2 separate regions of the Homo sapiens genome follow, and region 2 is linked to region 1. A link means that fine-mapping ties the variant in region 1 to the expression of a gene that starts in the linked region. Tissue or cell type: prefrontal cortex. Region 1 holds a variant in brackets; the other region holds the start of a gene. All regions are shown on one strand. Distances are from middle to middle.

The links. PIP is the estimated chance that this variant, and not a neighbour inherited with it, causes the effect.
Region 2: MPP3 starts here. The variant in region 1 is fine-mapped to the expression of MPP3 in prefrontal cortex (GTEx, PIP 0.99).

Annotation. Positions count from the first base shown.
Region 1 is chr17:43,737,693-43,745,927 of GRCh38, reverse strand. No RefSeq gene overlaps it. Among named protein-coding and RNA genes, the nearest start is that of SOST, 17 kb to the left of the region's middle. RefSeq lists a silencer at 1,805-1,964. The variant A/G (reference allele first, on the strand shown) is at 4,295.
Region 2 is chr17:43,828,561-43,835,209 of GRCh38, reverse strand. MPP3 (MAGUK p55 scaffold protein 3) reads left to right here and starts at 2,064. Exons shown (of 20, transcript NM_001932.6): 1 at 2,064-2,109; 2 at 2,391-2,449; 3 at 3,267-3,328; 4 at 3,533-3,651; 5 at 3,889-3,966; 6 at 5,103-5,183; 7 at 5,419-5,556. The coding sequence starts at 3,304. It overlaps LOC107984979 (a long non-coding RNA gene), which reads right to left and starts at 1,505. Exons shown (of 3, transcript XR_001753057.2): 1 at 1,221-1,505. RefSeq lists silencers at 1,935-2,034, 2,055-2,104.

The DNA.
Region 1 (8,235 bases):
GGTGTGTGATGTTAGGTTATTTCTATGTCTGAAGAAAACAGCTCAGCTCTGACTAAAGAAATAAATGATAACATTTTTCTTTCAGGCAACCAGATTCCTTGGTACAAAAGGCTCCCTGGGGAGAAATGCCGGGACAGTGTGGCTCCTCTGAGGCTATTTACATCTGTCAGCTTCTCTAATCTCTTGCCTTCCTTCCTCTGTCTGTTTCCTTCCCTTTGCACAGAGCCCGGCATTGAGCCTGGTACTTACAGGGAGGGTGGTGGAGCCATCGTCCTCACGTATGCGCTGGGGATCGGGGTTGGTGGGGGGTGGCCAGTGGCATTTGGTGGGTTTTTTTTTGTTGTTAGAAACCAGCCTTAATTTAAGATAATAACTCTCCTTGTTTGCCAGTGATCGCTATTTGTAGGCACCTATTTTCCCTGGTCAATTTGGCTAAGATAAATCGAATCTAAAAGGGAACATTTTCTAAAAATGCTGCGGGGCAGTTTGCAGAAACTGGACCAAGGAACATCTTCCAGGTCACCTGTTCCATGATGGCCTGGATGCCCCCCTTCTTAAATGAGATTGGGGGCATAGAAACAGACTCCCCAGCCTTTTACGACAACACCTTTAAAGTGTCATTGAAACCTGGGGGAACAAGGACCCTGAAGAATCATTTGGTCTGGACTTTACTGAAAGATTCCAATTCCTGCATGGTCAGCCCCCGCCCCCTCTCCAACTGGTCTCTTGTCAGTGTCCTCACAACCCCCAGCCCAGCCCTGGCTCCCACCCTCCACCCACCCTGCCTGTCTGTTAGTTCCTCGAAAGCACCAGCTCCCAATTATGACGATGCTGTTCCCTCTGCCAGGGACACTCTTCTTGCATTCTCTGCCATCCATCTGATGTCGGCTCAAATATCACCTCCTCAGAGGCCTTCCCTGACCATCCCATCTAAAACAGGATTCCACTATTCTTTTTCCTAACCCTTGTCACAAGTTGTCATTTTATATTTGTCTCATGGCAGGTCTGCCTCCGCTGCCCAGTTGTAAGCTCTATTAGACAGGGACTGAGCTGGCTTGTTCTTGAGATCTGAGATCACAGAGCCTGGCCTGCAGCAGGTGCTCAGTATATCAGTATATGTTGGCAACTGAGTGAACCAGCAAGGGGTCGGTGGGCCCTGGCACAATTGCTCTGCTACCGCTAACACCACCACTAAGAATGTCATTTAAATACCAGATCATAAGCACCAACTTTAGTTCCAGGCAGCCCTCCTCCTGGAGTGGGAGCAAGAGACTCTCTCCACCTCATCCCCCAGGCCTGGAAAAATGTTTTGAGCTTTCAGTTGCTTATTCTTTTCTTCTTTATGCACAAGTTGTTTTCCTTTCCTCAATCGCTTTATTTCCCTTTTTTCTAGTAGTCACATCTTCATTAGAGATTTTATATTACAATATCATCATAGACTCCCTTTTAAATTTCCCTGGTCCTTCTGTTGCTGTCTGGGGAGACAGAGGTGCACACTCTGAAGTCGGTACCGGACCCATTCACACTGGCCCAGCTTCTGTGTGGCTGACCAGCCGTGTGTCATTTAATACCAGACTGTGTGGCTGACCAGCTGGGTGTCTCCAACCCCTCAGGGGCTCCACCAGACCCTTGGAATCAACCCCCTATGGTTCTCCCTTGGGCCCCTATCTCCTGCATGCATTCAACTCACCAACCACCACGTGCGCGGTTTCTGTTTTCTGTCCATTTGCCTAACGTCTCTTGAATCCATCCATTTCTCTCCAGTGCCACTTCCCTGGTTTGGCCGCCGTCTCCCTTGTCCTGGCCTCTGATATTCTCCTGGCCTCTGGACTCACCTCCTCTAAGCCAGTCTTCCTCTGGGCGCAGAATCTGATCCTGTCCCTCCTCTGCTTCCTGTGGCCTTAGGATGGAGAGCACTCACCTCAGCCAGGCCCCCAGGCTAAACCCGATCTGATGCTCCCAGCTCTCCAAGCCCTTCTCTTCTCAGATGCCTCTCTGGGCTCCTCTTAGTTCCTGCAAGTCCCGCACTCTCTCCCACCTCCGGCCTTTGGGCAGCGAGTCTTTCAGCTAAGTGGTTTTCCTACATCACCTTCTACTCCCTCCTCGGCTCTCATACATCCTCCTGGATGCCCCGCTGAACCTCCTGGGCCAGTTAGGGCCTTCCCCTGTGTTTTCCTGACAGATTGTAGTTTCCCTCATATTGCCTTGGCGAAGTGCCCTCTAACTGCCAATTTATTATTATTATTTTATTATTATTATTATTTTGAGATAATAATCTCAGAGTCTTGCTCTGTCACCCAGGCTGGAGGGCAGTGGCATGATCTTGGCTCACTGCAACCTCTGCCTCCCAGGTTCCAGCGATTCTCCTGCCTCAGCCTCCTGAGTAGCTGGGACTACAGGCACATGCCACCACGCCTGGCTAATTTTTGTATTGTTAGTAGAGATGGGGTTTCACCATGTTGTCCAGGCTGGTCTCGAACTCCCGACCTCAAGTGATCTGCCCACCTTGGCCTCCCAAAGTGCTGGGATTATAGGCATGAGCCACTATGCCCGGCCACCAATTTATTATTTCTTCCCTTAGACTGGGAGCTTCATGAGGGCAGAGGCTGGCTGTCATGCTCAGGGGTGCAGAGAAGATCCTGACTTAAAATTCCTGTGACTTGGACATGCAGGAGAAGCCAGACGTGAAGGATATAAATTGAACCAACTTGGACTGAAGATCCCAGCCAGGAGGATCTGCTCCCCCAGGAAGGGAACTGATTTGTCCTCGAGGCCCCTGGGATAGGAGAAGCCACAGCATCCTGTTGTTTGATCTTCTTATCTTCAAGCAGGCATGACTCGGTTCCAGAAATACAAGCCATAAGATAGACCTCCAGACTCCTAGAGACGATCTGAAGCTGCAGAAGCCCTCCACTGAAAGACCGGACCCACTGCCTACTCCTCCTGGCAGGTGCCCTGGACAAGGGCACAGACTTCACAGCGTTCAAGTGTGAAGGGATTGTCCTTCTCCAGCCCTGGATATTAAAAGGTCTACCCCGATGAGCCATGGAGGGACTCTGAGTGTGTGTGTGTGTGTGTGTGTGTGTGTGTGTGTGTGTGTGTGTTGGAGGAGTTGCTTATGGAAAATATTTTTCCTGCTCTTAAAAAGGGACTCCTGCCAGGCATGGTGGCTCATGCCTGTAATCCAAGCAGTTTGGGAGGCCGAGGCAGGTGGATCACCTGAGGTCAGGAATTCGAGACCAGCCTGACCAACATGGAGAAACCCTGTCTCTAATAAAAATACAAAATTAGCCGGGCATGGTGGCACATGCCTGTAATCCCAGCTACTCGGGAGGCTGAGGCAGGAGAATTGCTTGAACCCAGGAGGCAGAGGTTGCGGTGAGCCGAGATCGCTCCACTACCCTCCAGCCGGGGCAACAAGAGTGAAACTCTGTCTAAAATAAAATTTAAAAAAAGAACAAAAAGGGACTCCTGGCTGGGCATGGTGGCTCATGCTTGTAATTCCAATACTTTAGGAGGCTGAGTCAGGTGGATCACTTTAGCCCAGGAGTTCAAGACCAGCCTGGTCAACATGGCAAAAAATACAAAAAAAAAAAAATTAGCCAGGAATGGTGGTGTGCACCTGTAGTCCCAGCTACTAGGCAGACTGAGGTGGGAGGATCACCTGAGCCTGGGAGTTTGAGGCTGCAGTGAGCTGTGGTTGCACCACTGCACCCCAGCCTGGGTGACAGAGTAAGACCCTGTCTAAGAAAAAAAAAGGCGTGTAGCACTTCCCTCCTCTCCCCCATTATCTCCCTTGCTCCCCCTCTCCATGTGAGGTGCTGGCTTCCCCCTTCACCTTTTGACATGATTGGAAGCTTCCTGAGGCCTCCCCAGAAACCCAGCAGATGCCCAGCACCATGCTTCCTGTACCGCCTGCAGGACCACAAGCCAATTAAACCTCTTTTCTTTATAAATTACCCAGACTCAGGTCAGTCAGCCTTCCTTCCTTCCTTCTTTTAAATTTTTTAATTTTGAGACAGAGTTTTCCTCTGTTGCCCAGGCTGGAGTGTAGTGGTGCAATCTTGGCTCACTGCAACTTCCTCTTCCTAGGCTTAAGTGATCCTCCTGCCTTGGGCTCCCAAACTGCTGGGATCAGAGGCATGAGCCACCGCACCTGGTCTCAGATATTTCTTTATAGCAATGCAAGAATGGCCTAATACGGGTGACAAGTCAGAGTTTGCAGGGAAGCCCAAGAAGCAAGCACATCAGCTGCCTGAGTGAGGCCGTGAAGGGAGCCGGTGGACAGGTCTGC[A/G]GGCAGCTGTAGCTCAGCAAGCCCAGCTGGCCAGAACACGGGCCAGACAGGGAGCCAGCAGCCCGAGAGGTGGATTGGCCAGGCATATCTCTGCCTCAGTGTCATCACGGCACATGACCGTGACAACCCCCTGAGAGTCAGGATGCTGCTTCACTTTTATTTTCCAAATCTCATGCAAGCTCCTCTTTTGACCAACTCTACCCTAGACCCCTCTGGAGAAGGGGTTTCTGGGAAGTATTATTCCCAGATTAGCCAAATGGACAAAACACAAACCAGCAGGAAGACCAGCCCCACTCATCTCTCTGGCCTCCTCCCCTCTACTCCCTACCTGTGCCCAGGCCCTAAACTGTTTACAGCTCCCCATTGTGCCTCTGCCCATGCTATGTCCTCAATTTGGGATACCTCTGCTCTCTTCTTTAGCTAGTCAATGCTACTGAGCCCTCAGGATCTGGCCCCAGAGACTCATTCCCTGAGACATCTTCCCTCTCTGAGAACTCCCCTCTCCTCTGTGCTCCCCAAGAACTGGGTACAAACCCACATTGCAACTCCTGTTACCCACCGAGTCTTCCTCCTCGCCAGGGCTAGGAATCTCTTGGGAAGGAGGACTGTGTCTGTGCTGGCCAGCCTCCCAGCAGCTAGTGCTGGGAAGGCAGGGTTCTCAAGGAGGGCGCAATGCCCTCCTGGCATGGAAACCACTAAACCACCGGTGCAGTGTGCTTCAGAATCACGTAGGGAACGTGTTACACATTCAGATTCCCAGTCCTCACCTCCCCGAGATTTTGATTTGGTAGTTCTGGAGCTAGACTCAGGAACCTGCATTTTTCTTTTTTTTAAATTGGGCAGCCTCTAGAGCCAGAGTAGGCTCAGAGACTCCCAGGAACCAGCATTTTTTAGCAAACACTGTGAGTAATTCATGAGCAATTTGTCTACCACATCAGGCTGACTCTGACAGAGCTGAATCTTTTTTTATTTTTTTAAGAGTTTAAGTCTAACTCTTTTCATTTTTTTTAACCTTAGTTTCTAGTTAGATTAGAAGGTCTGTCTCTTTTATAGATAAAAGCTCTATTAAGTCCTTATAGGTCTTATTCTGCTTTTATTGGAGGCCCTGAAGCCCAGACTATGGGATTTAAAAGTCTCTGAAGGGTGACAGAGAGGACCAGAGAGAAGGCAGTAGAGTCGAGGCATGGAGCTTGCCGAGGGCCTGGCCGGGACAGAGAGGCCCAGCAACGCCTTGGCCCCAAGAAAATCTTCTTGTCTTTCTGGAATGCCGAGAAGCCCTGAGGAGGTCCTGGGTGGGAAGAGCTAAGCCATAGTAGGTGTGCTGAGGCCCATGGGAGGGGACTCAGCATGTGCCTCAGTAGCCCGTGACGCAGGACCTCCCACGCGGGTCTCCTGAGGAGCTGGAGAGAAGCAGATTATTCCTCCAACATATCAGTGAGGGCACCTTGGGCCCAACTGGCTGGGGAGGTGGGGATGTGTGGGGTGGGGACAGGATGACAGCAGAGGAGCTGGCACTAGGACAGGAGCCACAGCAGGCTGGGTACCACAGAGTGGGGCCTTGCCAGTTTCGACATCTGCCCCCAGTCCCTGCCTGGTCACCCAAGGAATGTGGCTTTAGATTTGTGGCTCGGGACCCCAGGAGAGGGAGAGGGAGCCTCTCAGCCTGTCTAGATCTTCTTGGCCAGGTGGTGGGAGGTGGCTTCTCCCAGGGGCCCCGGGGGCTGCTGGATGAGACGCTGACTCAGTTATCTTCTGAGTTGAGCCATTGTTTTATTTAAAAATACAGAGCAAATAAACCCACAATATCACTCCACCCCATGGACACAAGCACTACTTATATTTAGGTGTATCCCCTTCCAGTCTTGTTTCCTCTGTGTATGTGTGTGTGTGTGTGTGTGTGTGTGTGTGCAGGCACATGCATGTGTTTGTTTGTACCATAGGTCCATAAAGTTCTGTATTCTGTATGACACCATTAGCATTTTCTATGTTGCCACAGAGTCTTTGTGACCATCATTCCCAAAGGCTGCCTGGTCTACTGAGATGATGGGCCATAGTTTCCTTAAGGATCCTTTGTTGTCTTCTGACCCACACAATGACACTAAGTTTTACCTGGGGCCAGACTCCCGCTCCCTGAAGTCAGCCCTGTTCAAACCCCAAATCTTGGCCCTCTCAATCCAGTCCTTCACTCCCTGACCTCTTCCTGCATTCTTCTGCCTGCTCCAGACTTTTTGATTTACCTCCCAATTTATGTATCACACTCACCACCCCCCTAGATCTGACAGCTTAGATAATGCCTTCTTGAATACTGGAAAAACCTGAATTGCCATCAGTTTTTGAGGTTCCTAATATACTATAAAATGTAAATATGCCTAAAGAGGGTTATAAAGATTGTCAGCTATTTTAGGCTGGGTGTGGTGGCTCACACCTGTAATCCCAGCACTTTGGGAGGCCAAGGGGGGTGGATTTCTTGAGCCCAAGAGTTCAGGACCAACCTTGGCAACATGGTAAAATCCCACCTCTACCCAAAATACAAATATTAGCCAATCTCTTAACCCAGTCTCAAAACAAATAAATAGATTAAAATTAAAAATAAAAGATTGTCAGCTATTTCAGTGTTTACACTGAACAAATTAATATTCCTTTCACCAGTAATGTGGTATAACATTGTTATGAACCCCCAAGAAATGTACAAATAAGGTACCACACGTGATACCAACTCTCCAGATGTGGAGACAAGGTCAAGGCCAAATGACAAATGTTCTCTTTGGGTCTTGTCAGAGTCACTCTCTGAGACTAAATATGCAATTGCACTTGAAGAAAAAAATAGCAGAAGTCTAAATTTGAGACCCATTGAGACCTGAGCCAATGGCTTTCCATACTCCCCTTGTGTCTGCACCCAATTAAAAACAAAATAAAACAGGTTATCCTGGCTGCTTCTCTAGAACTGTCCCTTGGCCTACCTTGTCAGGCTGAGCCTGGCACCTGTCCTCAGATCTGATGCCTTGTTGCCTGGAGTGCCTCCCCCACCCACTCAACCCTAGCTCCTGGGATCCTGCCTTGGGTCAGCCCCCTTGGCTGGTACCAGAGGTGTTTGGAACATTGGATGGCTTCTAATGTTTTCACTATCGTAAATGTGGTGGATGGGATTCTCTGGTTCTGTCAGCTCCTTTTCCCTCTCTATGCTCATCCTTACTGAGGAGGGAACATTTTAAGCTCACCCCTACTGAGGAGGGAGCCTTTTAACCTCATAAATCATTAGAGTGATACATCAAGAATCCACTCTAAGCAGAGAAGTGGATTATCTCAAGGCCCCTCCACTCAGAAGATGGGAGGATGTGGAGCAGGTGGTTCTATTTGCCTTGAGCACAAGGGCCACAGGGAGCAATCCAGATTTGCTGGCTACTGACCAAAGGGGATGAAGCTCCTTTTCTAAGAGAAGAAGGTTAGACAAGGAAGGAGATGAGAGAGATCAAGGGAAACAGAGATTACTGGGCATCATGGAAGCTGTTTTCTGGAAGGCAACCCAGTGGGAAGGGTGGGGACGCTCTGCATCATGAATGAGTGGAGGTGATACTTGCTGGCAGTAGATTCAGCTTTTATCCATTTCTGGCCACGGAAGGGCAGAATGTGGCCATGAATGACTTTGCTCAAATACATTTTTCTCTACTTAGGATTATTTCTTTTCCCCAAGGGGGCACATTTCTATGGCTCTTCTCATATATTGCTGGATTGGTTTCTAGAAGATGGGTATCACTTTACAATAGGGCAAGAGAGGATCCCATTTTTGGCACATATAAGTATGCAATAAGTAAGTGATTAATAGCAAGCAGAACAGAAAATCCCCAGGCTGTGGGGCAGTGGTGCTGTTGCTGGAGGGAGAACATCCAGATCTTTAACCTCTGGGGCCACTTCAAATACACTTGCCCAGGATTTAAGCATCA
Region 2 (6,649 bases), 90 kb before region 1:
GCCTGATCTTGGCTCACTGCAACCTCTGCCTCCCGGGTTCAAGCAATTCTCCTGCCTCAGCCTCCTGAGTAGCTGGAACGGACACAGGTGTGTGCCACCATGCCTGGCTAATTTTTTGTATTTTTAGTAGAGATGGGGTTTCACTGTGTTAGCCAGGATGGTCTCAATATCCTGACCTCAGATGATCCACCCACCTTGGCTTCCCAAAGTGCTGGGATTACAGGCATGAGCCACTGCACCTGGCCAATAGTGTTTTTTGATGAGCAGGAGTTTTAAATTTTGATGAGGTCCATTTATCAATTGTTTTCAGGGTCCATGCTTTTTTTAAAAATTTTTTCTTTTTTTAGAAACGGTGTCTCTTTGTCACCCAAGCTGAAGCGCAGTGGACTGATCATAGTTCACTGCAGCCTTGAACTCTTGGGCTCAAGCAATTTGCCTGCCTCAGCCTCCTGAGTATGTGGGATACAGGCTCATGCCACCATGCCTGGCTTTTTTGTATCCTTTCTAGGAAATCTTTGCATACCCCAAGATTTAAAAGATACCCTCCTGTTTTATTCTAGTAGCTTTATCGATTTGCTTTATGTTTAGGCCAATGATCTCTCTTAAATTGCGTTTTGAATATGGTGTGAGGTAGGGATTGGGTCCCTTCAGGCACATAAATATCTACTTGTTCCAACACCACTTCCTGGTGTTCTTGTCCAAAATCATTTGACCCATATCAGATGGATCAGATGGTTCTCATTATTTTTCCAACAGTAAACATTGCAGCTAAGAATGTGTCTCATGCAGTCTCTCTCCACTCAAAAAGTGTGGTCTGCAGACCAGTGGCGTCACATCACCTGGGAGCTTGTCAGAAATTCAGAATCTGGCACCACTCCAGCATTACACAACCCCCTAGTGAGTCTCAGGCACGTTACATTTTGAGGAGCAATAGTGTAGATATTTCTTGAGGAATGAGGATAATTTTTGAGGAATGAGGGGAAACATCATCATGACATTTGCTGCCTCTCACAGCCTCCCCATGCACTACAGCCTGTGGGGCCTGCCAACCCATTTTCCCTGGTTACTGTGCAGGGCTAGATTTACTTCCAGACTTAACCTCTGGGTCCACCTCTCCTGACATGTGCTGTGCCGTTCTTTGCTGCTGGGATTGAGGGAAGGGGGCCCACTCACTCACCCACTCCTCACCTTTTAATACCCACAACCACCTGCTCACTCACCCAGCAGTTCCTATGCTCTCCCCTATACACATTCTTTCACCAGGAACCTCAGTTTCCTCAATTGCAGAACCAAAATAAGAATGGTCTTGATATCAGGAACTACTGTGAAGGGAAGTGATCTGAGGAGTACCTGGGCATGGAGACAGCACAATATAAGTCAGTTATCGTCATGGCCATTTCAGAGCTCTTTTTCCAGTAAAGCCCCTGGATGCTGCTCGCCTCTGCTATGTAGCCTCACTCCCCTGCAGCCGGGCAGAATGGAGTCCCCCTCCTCTCCAGCCTGACTTCTCCTCCCCTGCTCCGCGTCCCCAGGGCAGCGTGCACCGATAAATCTTTCCCAGCGCGTTGCATTGTTACAGCGAGTTGCCCTCGCATCCGACCGGCCCCCCGCCCCACCTCTGGAGATCTTCAAACCCAGGATCTGTGCCTTGGTCGTCTTTGAAGCCCCGGCCCCTGGCACAGCGCCTGGCACCTGGAGGGCGCTCAATAAATGTTTGCAAAATCGAATTCTCTGTTGAGCAGGTGTCCACCCCTCCACTCGCGGAGGGTGGGTTGCGCGGGCGGAAGGGAAGTCTGGCTGTGTGCCAGGGTGCGGGGGGACACAGGCAGGGGACTCAGGGAGCGGGAGAGCGGGAGCGGGTACGACGCCGGCTAGCGGAGCCCGGCCCGGAGGGTGCGGCGGTGCCAGACGCGGAGGGCGGCCTCCGCTCCTCCCCCGCCTCCTCCCCGCGCCGCGCCTCCTCCCCGCGCCGCGCCTCCTCAGGCTCCGCCACCCCCGCCCGGCGCGGCAGCCGCAGGGAGGGGTCCGGGAAGGCGGAGCCAGCGGCGGCCCAGGCTCTGGGCACTCGCGCGGCTCCCGTTCGCGGAGCACACATCCCGGCGCGACGAGGTAGGAGGCCGCGAGGGGAACGGACGAGGGAGCTGGGCGCCGCGGCGGGAGGGGCGGGAGGCCGGGCCGAGACCCTCCTCCCGTGCTCCCGGACAGCCTCGCGGCCCACCGAGCCCACCGCGGGAGTCTCAACCCCGCCCCTCGGCCCCCGCCTCCCTCTTCCCGCGCCCGCCCCGCCGCGCGCCCCCCGCTCCCTGCTGCTCCGCGTCCTCCGGGACCGCCCTCCGAGGTCCCCCGGGGTCGCTGCTCCTGCGCCCAGTGCGCTCCTTGTTCTCCCACAGGTTCCTTCGGAGAGCGAGCGGGAGTCGGTGCTCGGCCTCCTGCGGGGAGCAGCCCGAGGGTGAGTCCGGCGTGGCGTGGCGGGGCGGGGCGGGGCGGAGGCTGGAGGGCCCGGGGCCGCTCTTACGCCTCTTAGTGGCACCGGGGCTCGGCGCTGCGGGCTGGCTCCATGTTTGCGGAATGAATCAGTCATGACTCTCCTTCTCCTCTTCCTAAGGAGGACTTTTTGAGGTCCACGTGCTGCAGAGCACCTTTGGAGGGCCTCATGAGATAGGGGTCCCCCCTCCTGCATAGTGGAAGCCCGACTCCCATTTCCCCCCCTCCTCTCTGCACTCCAGTCTGGAGGCTCCCTTTGGGTTGGGTCTTGGGGGGTCGGGGACAGGGGGCTTGTAGGCCCAGCCAGGTAGTTGTGGAAGGTGTGTCCCAGCAGGAGACTTGAGCCAGGGCTCTTAGAAGGTTGCAGTGGAGGGGGCGCGCTGCGGAGGACAGCTGACACTGTCAGGCAGGGTCACTTGGCACCTCCAAGGCCAGCCTGGAAGAGCCTGCTTGAATATGGATTTTGACCCACAGCTTACTGAAAGCTTCCACGCCGCTGTTTCTTCATCAATAAAATGGGAACATTCGCAGTCATTTCTCAGGACTTTGTGCAGACAAAAAGTTTATCATAGAAATCACCCCACACAATGCTTGGCACATCGAGGACACTCAGCACATCTTAGCTTTATTTCCTTCCTCTCTGAAAAAAGTAAGCAGAGTTATTTGTTCCCATCCTCTCTGTCCACAGCCTGGTCTCAGAGAACACAGTAGATGTGTAGTCAGTTTGTTCAATAAATATGCTTGATGGAGCTTCAATACCCACCTCCACCCCCTTCTCCCAGAATCTGCAGGGAGAGGTCGGGAGGTGACAACGCCAGCATGCCAGTGCTATCGGAGGACTCTGGTAAGTACCTCCCCCCGGCTGGACCTGCCACAGTCCTGAAGACAAGAGCCTGCCTGGCAGCCTCCAGGCCCTGGCAGTGAGAGCCTGGGGAGAGAATGTCCTCACGGCAGGACTGAAGTGCTGTTTGAGGCCCCACTCGGGCTCCTCGGGGGCAGGGAGCACCCACTGCGTTTGCTATCCTTTGTTTTTCTCACCTCTCCCCAGGTTTGCATGAAACCCTGGCCCTGCTGACCTCCCAGCTCAGACCTGACTCCAACCACAAGGAGGAGATGGGCTTCCTGAGGGATGTTTTCAGTGAAAAAAGCCTCAGTTACTTAATGAAGGTGAAGTCCCACGTCATCCTGCGTGGAAGGGTGTCTAGAGGTCTTTCTAGCTGTCTGTGGCCGTCTGAGGTCATCCTAGTCATCTCCCTGCCCCAGGAAGGCCTTCACTTGCCCACTACACAGGACTTTCTCTTATGGTGCCCTGTCAGTGGCCCAGTCTGCTGCCCCAAATGTCCCCACAGCCGTGGGTGGGATGTGTGGTGTCCAGGGTGCATCTGAAATACTCTGTCTTTGCAGATTCATGAGAAGCTTCGCTATTATGAAAGGCAAAGTCCAACCCCAGTTCTGCACAGCGCTGTGGCCCTCGCTGAGGACGTAAGCCCCAGGTTTCTCCTTACAGTGTCTGCCCCACTCCCCACCCTGTAGGGCTCCTTCATCTTGCCTCGCTTGCTTAGTGTGGGGACACCGGGAATCAGGAGCCCAAAGGTGAAGAGGTGTTTTCTTCCCTTGTCCTCCTCCTTCTCTTCCTCTCTCTGGGTTCCCCGAAAGGTAGGGAGGAACCCGTGAGCCTTGGACTGGGCTGGGAGACACTGTGACATGGAGCTGCCCACTTACTGTGTGTTCTTTAGCAAGTCTGCTTCCTCTGCTGTAAATGAGAGCATTGGATTGGCTCAGCAGTTCCCAAACTGCCCTGAGGACTGGTGATTTGAATAGGTCAATAAGACATTATGTCTGTGCTTTCCTGAAGTCAAGGGACCTACAGTGTGTCCCCGCATACTGGCTCAGGCTTCTCATTTTTTAAAGGAACGCTTCTTAATTTCTTGTGGACCTAGTCGTCTATGTTGCGTGGTTGGGGAAAACCCATTCTGGTTGATTACTAAGATCAGTTCCTGAATAAACTCACCTAACCCCAGGAGATGGCCTGGGGAGGGATGAGTGCAGCTTGTGGGTGCAGAGCCCTGGGCCCTTCTCCACTGTGGAATGTGATTAGGGGCACATTAGATTGCCTGGCTCCCAGGCTCAGCGCTGCCTGTCCCACCAGCTCTGTGATGTTAAGTAGGCCACTCAACCTCTCTGAGCTCCCATTTCCTCATTCATAAAATAGCATCTGAGAGCCAGATAAGCCCAGGTTCAAATCCTAGCTGTGCTGTATATGAGCTCTGTGACTTCGGGCAAAATGTTTAATCTCTTTGAGTCTCAGGATTCTCATCTGTAAAATGGCAAAGTAACAAGACCCTCTGCATCAAGTTGGTTGCGAGGGTTCAGTGAGAAGATCCACATAAAGCAGAAAGCACGTAGGGCTTAAAACGGTGGCTCCTTGGAGGATGGCCCCATAGAGCTGCTCCTGACCCCTGGTGTGATGTTCCCAGGATCATCGTCGTCGGGTGGTTGAGGGTCTGGTGTGCCCCTGGGGGCTGCAGCTGGGTGGGCCCTTCCAAAGAGGAAGGACCCAGCAGATATGGGGCAGGGGCACCTCTAGCCATCAGTGGCGCCTGTCTCATTCTCTGCAGGTGATGGAGGAGTTGCAGGCCGCCTCCGTGCACAGTGATGAGAGGGAGCTGCTCCAGCTGCTGTCCACCCCGCACCTGAGGGTAGTCACACAGAGCCCCTGCCCAGCCATGCCTCTGGGTCTCCTGGGATGGGGGCGGAGGGAGCTCTCCTAATGAGGCTGAGGAGTGGAGACTGAGGGAGCGATCCTCAGCACTAGTGTCTGGGCAGTTGTCTCTCTGGCATGGCGTCTGCCACCCTCCATACCACCGGCCAGCTGCGGCCTGCTGACCCTGTGAGCGGCGGGCCAGCCTTCCTTTTCTCTGGCTTTCCCGGCAGGCTGTGCTCATGGTACATGACACGGTTGCCCAGAAGAATTTTGACCCCGTTCTCCCGCCTCTGCCTGACAATATCGATGAGGATTTTGATGAGGAATCGGTGAAGATCGTCCGCTTGGTGAAGAACAAGGAACCCCTGGTAGGTGCTGCTGCCTGCCCCTCTCTAACCCACTCTTCCCCTGCCTCTCACCCCCACCCAGAACACTGGACAAGATCCTCCCCGAAGTCTTCAGAGTGAGTGACGGCAGCTTTGCCTGCGCTGCTGCTCATCCCTGTGGTGCCTCTGTGTGCAGGGCACCCCTTTCTCTAGGTGGATACAGCCCCTCTCAACTGTGGCCAACACCCTTTGTGTAGTTAATAACCTGCACAATTGTACAGGGTGACCCTGATCATGCTTTAAGCCAGAAATGGACAAACTACAGCCCAAGGGCCAAAACCAGCCCACAGCTTATTTTTTAAAATAAAGCTTTTTTGGAGCACAACCAGGCCCATTCACTTACAGATTGGCTGTGGCTGCCTTTATAGTGCGATGGCAGAGTTGAGTCGTTGTGACAGAGACTGTGTGGCTGGCCTCAAATATTTACATGTGGCCCCTTATAGAAAACGTGTGACAATGCCTGCTCTGAATGTTGAGGAAGCACAGGGCATTCCTCTCCCCAGCAGACAGACTGCTATCACTTTGGTCCTGGTTCAGCATTGATTTACCGAGCAAAGGGACAGCGTTGTTTATGAGATGCTCAGAAGTGGTGGAAGCCCAGAGAATTGAGATTGGCTCCAGAGGATCCCACAGCTGGCATTCTCTATTTCCAACTTTCCCCAAATGACCTCCGACGAGCCTCTTCTGCAAACAGACGAGGATCTCTCCTCTGCCTCTGTTTCCTCACTTGTAAAATGGAGTGGCCATCCATTGATTTAGCAAACACATTGTGAGCCCTCCTATCCAGGCTCTGTATTGGGTGCTGGCGGTTCAGAGCTGAATAAATGATGGATAGCGATGCTGGAAAGTTCTCAGTTCTGGGGGGCTAGAAGTCCTGAGGTTCTTAGCTGATGGCCTCTCTTTCTAGCAATAATTATCTTACGTACTTCAAATAGATGGCACAGATGATGTTAACAATAAGTGTGCAAATGTGTTTGCAGTTACAGCCACTAATAAGTGGTTAACATATGTTGAGTGCTTACTGTGTACTAAGTGCCTTGAGTGGAATCCTTGCAACAACACTGTGAGTTAAATG